2 linked regions of the Homo sapiens genome follow. The protein of the gene in region 1 interacts with the protein of each later gene in a biochemical or structural test. Each region holds a gene or a part of one and is shown on either strand. Other genes may lie near its edges.

Region 1 (3,723 bases):
TTTTTGAAATGTCTGATGAATTGGGTCTAGATTGGTTAGGGAGAAAAATGTATCTTCATGAGGATAGAGGATTCAGAGAATGAGTGGCTGAAAGGCTTGAAATCATGATTTCACAATGTTTGGGGGGTGAGACCCAGGCATCAGCATTTTGAAGCCACCATAGGTAATTCCAAATTGCAGCCAAGGCTAAGTTGGAGACAACTGAAGGGAAGACTAACAGGATAACAGATAACAAGATACAAATTGGGGTAGTCTGAGTTAAGAATCTTGACCACTGAATTCTCAAACAACGAGTCTAAGGCCATGATAGTGATTCGCTAAAGTGAACTGGAAATGAGGGTAACTGGAATTGATAAAATTGAGCTTGAGGAACTACAGGGCCATCTTGATTTGAAGGTATGTCTTGTATGTCCTCCTAGAAATCCTCTATGCACAAACTTACCTAATTTTACATTTCATAGTTCATTGGAGATGTCTCATTTCTCCAGTGATAGAACACTGATCCGCTTATGACATTTAATTATAGGTCATGGTATTGATCCTACTTCTTGGAAGATTTTTCTTCACTTCAAAAACTATGTGACAATGAGAATAATTGCACTTTACATTTTAATTAGACAGATGCTTGGGGAATTGGTTAATTAGAAAGCCCTTTTTGTTGCAACCCTTACTGAAAACTTTCAATAAAGATATTCATCTAATTAAATAGTAAGTACAAATTCCATTAAGTAAACAATTAGGCATTTTTCAATGGTTTGGGATCTATTGTAGGTAATTATTCTGAACAAGTTGTCACTGCCTGAGAGACTGAATACCTGGTACATCTCTCAGAAATGTTAACTTTTTTTTCCCATTATGGTATTTTCTTTAACTTGCTGTTTCTAAGAATGGGATCCTATTAATGTATACCAGTTACTAAGGTTTTGTTGAACTTTTTTATATAGCCTCCCCACTCCCCACTCCTTTTGTGACATCTAGTTATGGGACCCAAAAAAGACATTTTCCCAGGTTTCAGAAGAGGAATATTGGTGTTTCTCTAGAGCAGTTGGTTTATCATACAGCAGAACACTGAACACAGAACTGATTGTGTTGGATGCTAAGAACCTAGCCCAGAGCCCAACTTTATCAACTGTAGTCTTACAGCATCTACTTTGTTTTAAGAACATTTTGGGCCAGACGTGGTGGCTCCTGCCTGTAATCCCAGCACTTTGGGAGGCTGAGGCCGGTGGATCACCTGAGGTCAGAAGTTCAAGACCAGCCTGGCCAACATGGTGAAACCCCGTCTCTACTAAAAATACAAAAATTAGCCGGGTGTGGTGGTGGGTGCCTGTTAATCCCAGGTACTTGGGAGGCTGAGGCAGAATTGCTTGAACCCGGGAGGCGGAGGTTGCAGTGAACCAAGATCATGCCACTACACTCCAGCCTGGGCGACAGAGCGAGAGTCCGTCTCTCAAAAAAAAAAAAAAAAAAAGCATCTTGGAGCCAGATGGTGTATAAATACAGCATTCTTTTCGAAATCTTTCAAGATCTTCTCAGGGGTATCTTGAAGGTCTCTTTCACCAGCACACCTGACTGTGGCAGCCCTTTGGATTCTTTATACTTTTCTGGTATAAAGCCTTCAAATAGTTCCAGTTGGCTGGGCATGGTGGCTCACACCTGTAATCCCAGCACTTTGGGAGGCCGAGGCGGGTGGATCACTTGAGGTAAGGATGGCAAAACCCCATCTCTACTAAAAATACAAAAGTTAGCTGGGCATAATGGCATGCCCAGTAGTCCCAGCTACTTGGCAGGCTGAGGTATGATAATCGCTTGAACTTGGGAGGCGGAGGTTGCAGTGAGCTGAGATGGCACCACTGCACTCCAACCTGGGTGATGGAGTGAGACGTCTCAAAAAAAAAAAAAAAAGTTCCAGTAGGTGAACTGAGTTTAGTGACACAGGCCAAAGTCAGTAAAACCTGTTTCTCAAAAGACTTGCTTATTAAAAAGCAAAACATAACTTCATCCATTATTTAAATATCCAGGTATTTGTAGAAGGCCAGAAGCACTAAAGGATACAATTCTCTCATACTGGGTCCTTATTTTATCCAGTAGAAGGCAAAACATAGTATTCCAGAAACAAAAGTAGTTTTTTTTTAAAATAAAAGAGAACAGACATAGATGCTTCCCTAACTCCAACTATGAATGTTATTGTCAGTTCTGCTATTACTAGCTTTTGACTCCAAGCAGTAAATATGAGATTTTGGACATAGGTATGGGCAGACTGCATGACTAAAACACCAAAAGCAATGGCAACAAAAGGCAAAATTGACAAGTGGGATCTAATTAAACTAAAGAGTTTCTGCACAGCAAAAGAAACTATTATCAGAGTGCACAGGCAATCTACAGAATGGGAGAAAATTTCTGTAATCTATCCATCTGACAAAGGGCTAATATCCAGAATCTACAAAGAACTTAAACAAATTTACAAGAAAAAACCCCATCAAAAAGTGGGTGAAGGATATGAACAGACACTTCTCAAAAGAAGACATTTATGCAGCCAACAAACATGAAAAAACGCTCATTATCACTGCTCATTAGAGAAATGCAAATCAAAACCACAATGAGATACCATCTCATTGCCAGTTAGAATGGCAATCATTAAAAAGTCAGGAAACAACAGATGCTGGAGAGGATATGGAGAACTAGGAACACTTTTACACTGTTGGTGGGAGTGTAAACTAGTTCAACCATTGTGGAAGACAGTGTGGTGATTCCGCAAGGATCTAGGACCAGAAATACCATTTGACCCAGCAATCCCATTACTGGGTATATACCCAAAGGATTATAAATCATTCTACTATAAAGACACATACACAAGTATGTTTACTGTGGCACTGTTCACAATAGAAAAGACTTGGAACCAACCCAAATGCCCATGAATGATAGACTGGATAAAGAAAATGTGGCACATATACACCATGGAATACTATGTGGCCATAAAAAAGCATGAGTTCATGTCCTTTGCAGGGACATGGCTGAAGCTGGAAATCATCTCAGCAAGAACAGAAAACTAACACAAGAACAGAAAACCAAACACTGCATGTTCTTACTCGTAAGTGGGAGGTAAACAATGAGAACACATGGACACAGGGAGGGGAACATCACACACTGGGGCCTGTTGTGGGTGGGGGACTAGGGGAGGGATAGCACTAGGAGAAATACCTAATGTAGATAGGTTGATGGGTGCAGCAAACCACCATGGCACGTGTATACCTATGTAACCTGCATGTTCTACACATGTACCCCAAAACTATTATTAAAAAAAAAAAAGATTTCATATTTGCTGATATCTCAAGGAAGCAGTATGCTGGAAAAATAGAGGTAAAGTGAATAGTAACATAAAGGAAGCTACAACTCACCAAGTATCAACAGAAATGACCAACACTCCTTGGGTGCCAGAAACCAGCTTAGCCAGGGTGCATACTGTACCACTGGAGAAGAGGTAAGCTGGGTTAACTTCGAAGAAACCCTGGCCAACTTAAATTATAGTTTAATCCTGTTTTACTTGGACCACAACACTTAAATCTAGATAAAAACCAATTATTCCTCCCTGTTTCAGTTGCCAAGCAAGGAAAACAGCTCCTCTGCCCAAGCTTTCTAGGTCATATTCTTCATATCTTTGTATCCCAACTTTCTGGATCTGAATTTTATAGCTAACTATAGGGCATTGCCTCTCTACCATCT
Region 2 (7,300 bases), on another chromosome or scaffold:
TGCAGAGTCAGATGTGGCTGAACATTCAACCTAGCACTTTTTCCATAAAAGAGATGTGGAAATCAATTTCCAAGAAGATTTCGAACTGCTCGAATTTACACCAAGAGGGTGTTCTACTTTCCTGCTAAAAAGCTTGAGTATTTTTATACAGTCCAGCTTTCCCTCCATAAACAGTTCACCTAAGTCAATTAAAAATTGTTTCCTTTTCTGTGTCATCTTTAAAAGAAAATCAAACACAACCAAGATACAGCATCATGTCCCATTTTCTGTTAAGTTTCATATAGTTTTAGTAACCCTTCCTTCCACCGCTATTGCCAAAAATGCTATATAGTACATGCATTAGAATGTGTTAAAGCAGATCGGGCATGGTGGCTCACGCCTGTAATCCCAGCGCTTTGGGAAGCTGAGGTGGGCAGATCGCCTGAGGTCAGGAGTTCAAGACCAGCCTGGCCAACATGGTGAAACCACTTCTCTACTAAAAATAGAAAAATTAGCCTGGCATGGTGGTGGACACCTGTGATCCCAACTACTTGAGAGGCTGAGGCAGCAGGATCACTTGAATCCGGTAGGCGGAGGTTGCAGTGAGCCAAGATTGCACCTCTGCACTCCAGCCTGAGCAACAGAGAGAGACTCCATCTCAGAAAAAAAACAAAAAACAAAACAAAACAAAACAAAAAAAAACAAAAGAGTGAGTTAAAGCATGTGAAAATAAACTTGGCACATTTCTAAGAATTTTATCACCTGTCCAGAAAGCTCCAGATATAATTGGTCACTATAGGTACAAAAAACAGCAGGACAACTTAAGATTATAACCTGAAAATGGAATTTTTAATGGAGAAAAATCTGTGTCGACTTATACACATAGTGGCCACATACCTACGGGATACAGTCCCCTATTAAAGCGCTGGCCTGTAAATGCTGCTGCACCACAGATTAAAAATGAGTCACAGGACCCTGAATCCTTGGACCCAACTCTCTCCTTCTCTGGTTCTTGACCCAGTGAAGGAGCTGATGATGCTATCATCCTCTGCCCTGCAAGTGTGAGATTTTAATTGCAGCACCCAGGACTTTGTTCCCACTCACTAAGCACCTTACTCAAACAAGTCAGAGAAGAAACACAATGTATTTTTTCTCACCTGTCCAGAACAAGATCTGGAGCAAAGATGAGCTTGCCGGGGTGGTCAATTGAGCGCCACATCAGCCCCATCATTAACACCTCCATCCAACAGCTCTCCAAGAGCCGCACTTGGTCGAACAGGCTGAGCTCCACAAAGCCTGGGGAAAGCAAGAGGCGGTGAGACACCCCCACCCCTCCTCCTCAGCTCCCTGTGTGTGTAGAGACAGAATGGCAAGTGTTAAAACACTAAGAAAACACAAACCATTAGGGAGTTGATATTTTATAGATGTGATTAACTGCTCATTAAAGGAAGAAAACTTTGAAGTTAAGCTGCGCAACTTAGTTTCCAGTCTTGGACCCCTTCTAGAGACAAATATACTTCATTTAGAGTTTGTCAAGCACTACGACCTCGGCTCAGAACTGATCTTTGTTAGCTGTGTCCTGATAATTCCTCTGCACTACTGAGAATGTTGATGCTTGGCTGCCAGTCAGAAGACCTGCCTGTCTGACCCAATCCTTGACTGGGATCAGAAGGGGTGGGGGATGGGGTAGGTGGGGGATGGGGTAGGTGGAGGTTGGGGTTGGAGGCTTGCAGAGAGCAGTGCCAGCCCTCACAGAAAACCAAGGCCTCAACTGCAAGGATTTCTCTGATTGATTAAAATTTCCTATCCAGTGTTAAGATCCTTCTTCTGGGTAGAAGCACTGTTTCTGGGTGATTCTATCCTAAACAGCAAATATAGCCAAGCACACCTGTAATCCCAGCACTTTGGGAGGTCAAGGTGGGTGGATTGCCTGCACCCAGGAGTTTGAGACCAGCCTGGCCAACATGGAGAAACCCCATCTCTACAGAAAATTATCTGGTCATGGTGGCAGGTGCCTGTAGTCCCAGATACTCTGGAGGCTGAAGTGGGATGATCGCCTGAGCCCAGGAGGTCGAGGCTGTAGTGAGCTGAGATCACGCCACTGCACTCCAGCCTGGGCAACAGAGCGAGACCCTGTCTCAAAAATAAATAAATAAATAAATAAATAAAGAGCAAATATAATAACGAAGCAGGTCCTGACAACCTAATAACCCATGTTGGTCACAGTACTGTTTGCAAACAGGTAATCTCTGGGGAGGGAAGCACTTCAAAAGCAAAGCAGAGAACACCGGGGCTTCCTTCACAAGCCATGATAAAAAGAGAGGGCCATGTAATATAAATATGATAACAAAAGACACCGCCTTGGAGTGAAATGGACTCTGGTTCGAACCCCAGCTCAGCCTCTTTCTAGCTGTTCACTTAATCTCCCATTAAGTCTTTGTTTTTCTTATAGGAAAATGGGGGTAACAATGCCTATCTCTGAGAATGTCTTATAGGCAGGATCTCTTATCATTCTTGTTTTACAGATGAGGAAACTACAGCAGAGAGAACACACATGGTTCAAGTCTTTGAACAATTATAACGCAAATCTGCCTCAAGGAGAATGTAATGGTGTTATGAATGTAAAGATGGATAAATACTTTCTAAATCCACATGCTTTGCTCAGTTTAGGTTCCTAATGTGTATATACCTTCCCAGTCTCACCCATAGTGATTGACAATAAGCCTACCCAAGAGAGATCACGGTTCTTAATCTTGTAGATATTCAACAAGATCAAGGCTAGATGATATTTTAATATATATTTTTTGGTTTGGACAATGACTATGCCAGCTAAGAGAGGAGAAAAAAAATCACGCCTTCAGATTATGTCTACGTTTCCTGAAAACTTTTCAAAACACCAGGCTTGAATAAGGAATAATGCAGTTTAAGAGTTCAGATTTCTTATGGCACAAAGAAGGTGCACAGCTTTCAGCAATAATTAATTTCACCACTGCTCTCCATGTGTGGTCCTGCAAAATCGTGTTTGGAATACATTTAAAGCAAAAACTAGAGGAAAGTGCATCAGTATTGCCTCCCCTGGGAAAAAGCAGAGAAAATAAAATAATTCTGGCAAAGGTGAAGATGCTAGACAAAACAAAATACAACTAGAAACCAAAAATCCTCAGGAAGCTCAGAAGAAATGGGCCCAGGCCAACAAAAGTCCCCAAATGATACTGTCACCATAGGCCTCAGTTCCCCAGGCTCTTTACCCAAAACTTCTCTTCCCCCAGCTTCTCACCCCTCCTCATCTTTACAGCTTGCCCAGTGCAGTCGCTGCCCTCCAGGCCATGGGAATGCCCCCAGTGGCTCAGAACTTATAAGAGACTTCATTTCTTCAAGGACTGTAAAGAACAGCATGGAGAAGCTGTCACAGGGGGATCGTGGGGTGTTGCCACTCTAGGTTAGAATCCTAGATTCACTCCTCCACAGAAACACCAAGTCAAATGATAATTAGCTGGTAATTTTAGCATCATACAGCACTTCAGATATATATTACAAATGGGCTTGAGAGAAGTGATCACTTTGGAGGATGGAAAACGCAGGTTCCAAGTGACAACTCATGAGTAACTAAGCTCATTTTTAACTTGATGGCATTCCAGGTTTATGGGCCCATTGATGATTCGTGTAACTTCAACCACTGATTTACTCTGTTTGTCCATACATATTCATTTATGTACATAATATTGATTCTCTACTGGAACAATAATTTACAAAATTCTATTTAGCATCTGACAAACCTTTCACTTTCAAACTAGTCATACTGTACTCTACCCCACCCCTCCTTTCAAGGTGAGGAATCCACAGCCAAGAAATGGGTCAATGTGGAGTCTATCATTTTAACCACGTTCCAGGTTCCAGGACTCTAGGATTCTTGCCCAAATGACCCCAAGCCCAATTCCAGAGCCTAGGTAGGTTCCCTGGGTCCATCCTCCCAGACCACCTCTAGGCATGAGAGGTGGCCAACAGGTGAGTGTCTGTAGCAGATGTGGACACACAGGATAGGGTTTGTGCAAGGTGGTATGGGATGCATCTAGCCATGGGAAAAGAAGGCAGTCAAGAATAGAAATGGCTGGGCCACGCACAACTCTTTCTGCACTACCATGTTGGGTACAGAACTCAGAAGAGTCTCAGAATTCTAAATCAGAACACGGCCTTGTTGAAGGTAGGTATGCCAAGACAGAAGGAAGGAACATATTGCACTTAAAAGTTACAAATCCAGCTGAGGACCTGTTAAATATCTAGGCACAGCTCATGGACCTCTACTTTGTACTCTTGCCCCTTAAATATTAGCGGCCGGCCTTTCTACAAGTACATGGAAAACTGATAGCCAGAAAGCCCTACCGGGAATCTTCTTGGCCCAGCTGATCATGTGTACCAACTCCTTGTCGGCCAACTTGGTCAGGGACATCATCATGGAGGCCTCGGTGAAGGGCGCACTGGGGCGGCTGATCAGCACATGGGGCGGCTCAGCCTCCAGGAGGGTGAGCACTAGCTGCTCGGGGCTCAGGGCGTCCAGCAGCAGCTCCCGCACTCGGGGCGCGTGGCCGCCACTTCTCTTGGCCTTGCCGGCACAGTGCAGCTGCTCGTCGGCACTTCTCTGTCTCCGCACAAGGCGGTACCCACATCTCTCTCTCCGGGAGCCTGAAGAGGAAAGCAGAGTCATTCGAATTGCCAGGGTAAAACCGCAGTCAAGCAAAAGCAGCTTGACTTTTATTTTCTGGAGCCTGTGGGGCACGTACCAAAGATTACTATGGTCGTGACCGTACTAGCAAAACCAACGACATAACTTTTCAGAAACTTTTTAGGTCTCCATTTCCAGGTCATCTATAGATACTAACACCGTTTCTCTATAAAGAGTGCTCATAAACCTGTTTCCAAACCATGAAATTAGGAATTTTCTTCAGGTAGAAAAATGGGGATATTTCCAAAGGTATCAAATAATATACTTTTATTATAACACATTCTTAAAATGTTTATATGCATGTGTGCATATGTATATATTTCCTTATACTTACACAAAACAAGTATATTTCAAATAACAAATTAAGTGAAAAAATCTGAAAAATATAGAAGAGAATAAATTTTGGCATAAACTCTTTCAGTCTTTTTAATGCTTTTATTTTTCTTTTTTCTTTTTTTTTTTTTTTTGAGACGGAGCCTTGCTCTGTGGCCTAGACTGGAGTGCAGTGGTGTGATCTCGGCTCACTGCAAGCTCCGCCTACCGGGTTCACGCCATTCTCCTGCCTCAGCCTCCCGAGTAGCTAGGACTATGGGTGCCTGCCACCATATTTTTCCACGTTTTATACACAAAATTATTTATTTATTTTTGAGACGGAGTCTCACTCTGTCACCCAGGCTGCAGTTCAGTGGCACATTCTTGGCTCACTGCAACTTCAGCCTCCCGGGTTCAAGCGATTCTCCTGCCTTAGCCTCCCAAGTAGCTGGGATTACAGGAGCCCGCCACCATGCCTGGCTAATTTTTATATTTTTAGTAGAGATGTGATTTCACCATGTTGGCCAGGCTGCTCTCAAATTCCTGATTCTCAAGTGATCTGCCCATCTTGGCCTCCCAAAGTGCTGGGATTACAGGCGTGAGCCACTGCACCCAGCCTTTATACACAAAATTAGATTGTAGTATCTACACTATTTTAATTGTATTTTTGAGACAGAGTCCTGCTCTGTTGCCCAAGCTGGAGTGTAATGATGCAATCATAGCTCACTGCAGCCTTCATCTCCTGGACTCAAGCAATCCTCCTGCCTCAGCCTCCTGAGTAGCTGGGACTACAGGAATATGCCACCATGCCCAGCTAACTTTTAAATTTTTTTGTAGAACTAGGGTCTTACTATGTTACCCAGTCCTCAATAGTTTGACTGTTTTCTCAGAACCCATTGGGCATTAAAAATCATTTTTAATGTTTGCTAATCTAACTAAACCATCTCGCTTTACTTTGTATGTTTTAATTACTAGCAAAGTTGATTTATATGCTTGTTCTTTGGATTTACTTTTTTTTTTTTTTTTTTAAGAGACAAGGTCTCTGTCACCCAGGCTGAAGTATGGTGGTACAGTCATGATCACAGCTCACTGCAGCCTCAACCTCCCAGGCTCAAGAGATCCTCCCACCTCAGCCTCCTGGATAGCTGGGACTACAAGTGTGCACCACCACATCTGACTAATTTTTGTATTTTTTGTAAAGACAGGGTCTCACCATGTTGCCCAGGCTGGTCTCGAATTCCTGGGCTCAAGTGATCCTCCTGCCTTGGCCTCTGAAAGTGCTGGGATTACAGGCATAAGCCACCACATCCGGCCCAAGAATTAAGTTTTAGTGATATAGAAACAAGGTGGAACCAAAATAACAAACAATAACATGCAAAATCAGAGAGGAATGATTTTGGTTAGAATTTCTAAGATTCTTTTTTGGGAAGATAGAAGCTTAAATTCTCAAATTAATCAAGAACACGTTACAAAACATAAACGTCATTAAAGGAATTGAAACATGGCCAAACATGGTGGCTCACACTTGTAATCCCAGAACTTTAGGAGGCCAAAGGTGGTTTCGGCGGGTGGGGCGGGAGGGGACGGATCACTTGAGGCCAGGAGTTCAAGACCAACCTGGGCAGCATGGTGAAACCCCATCTCTACTAATAATACAAAAATTAGCTGGGCATGGTGGCAAATGCCTGTAATCCTAGCTGTTTAGGAAGGTGAGGCAGGAGAATCACTTGAACCTGGGAGGCAGAGGCTGCAGTGAGCCAAGATCACACCACTGCACTCCAGCCTGGGTGACACAGCGAGACTCTGTCTCAAAAGATAAAAGGGAATTGAAACAGAATGTATGACTTTTAAACTAGCAAAAGAAGAAAAAGAAAACATAAAAATGTGATCAACTCCTAAAAGGGAAGAAGTAGAAAATACATAATAAAATTTTTTAAATCAAAAAATAAGATGATAGAAATGAACCCAAATATCAGTTATCACAATAAACAAAAAATACCAAATTGACCATTTAAGAGTGACTCTGAAATTATACATATTTTTAAATCTAGACATAGATTAGGTGTAAGAGATATACCTAACATATAGAAAAACAAAGTAGACAGATAGAAAAATATTTAACAGGCAAAATTAACCAAATAAATTGACATTACTCTATTGATACCAGACAAATAAACTTTAAGGCAAAAATTATTATTATAGATAAGGAGACTCATCGCTAGAATATTTTAAAAAGATAAATAATTCTAAACTCATATACTTCAAAACAACAAAGGCCAGGTGCGCTGG

Evidence for each region.
Region 2: the proteins of DNTTIP2 (region 1) and ESR2 form a complex in vitro, tested with the Homo sapiens proteins (one study listed by BioGRID).

What each region holds. Positions count from the first base shown.
Region 1 is NC_000001.11:93,865,692-93,869,414, forward strand, and holds the end of DNTTIP2 (deoxynucleotidyltransferase terminal-interacting protein 2), read right to left. Parts: 3' UTR 593-3,723; downstream 1-592. UniProt on the Homo sapiens protein: Regulates the transcriptional activity of DNTT and ESR1. May function as a chromatin remodeling protein. Part of the small subunit (SSU) processome, first precursor of the small eukaryotic ribosomal subunit.
Region 2 is NC_000014.9:64,256,090-64,263,389, forward strand, and holds part of ESR2 (estrogen receptor beta), read right to left. Parts: intron 4,660-7,300; coding exon 4,360-4,659; intron 1,327-4,359; exon of another isoform or gene 1,276-1,326; coding exon 1,137-1,275; intron 1-1,136.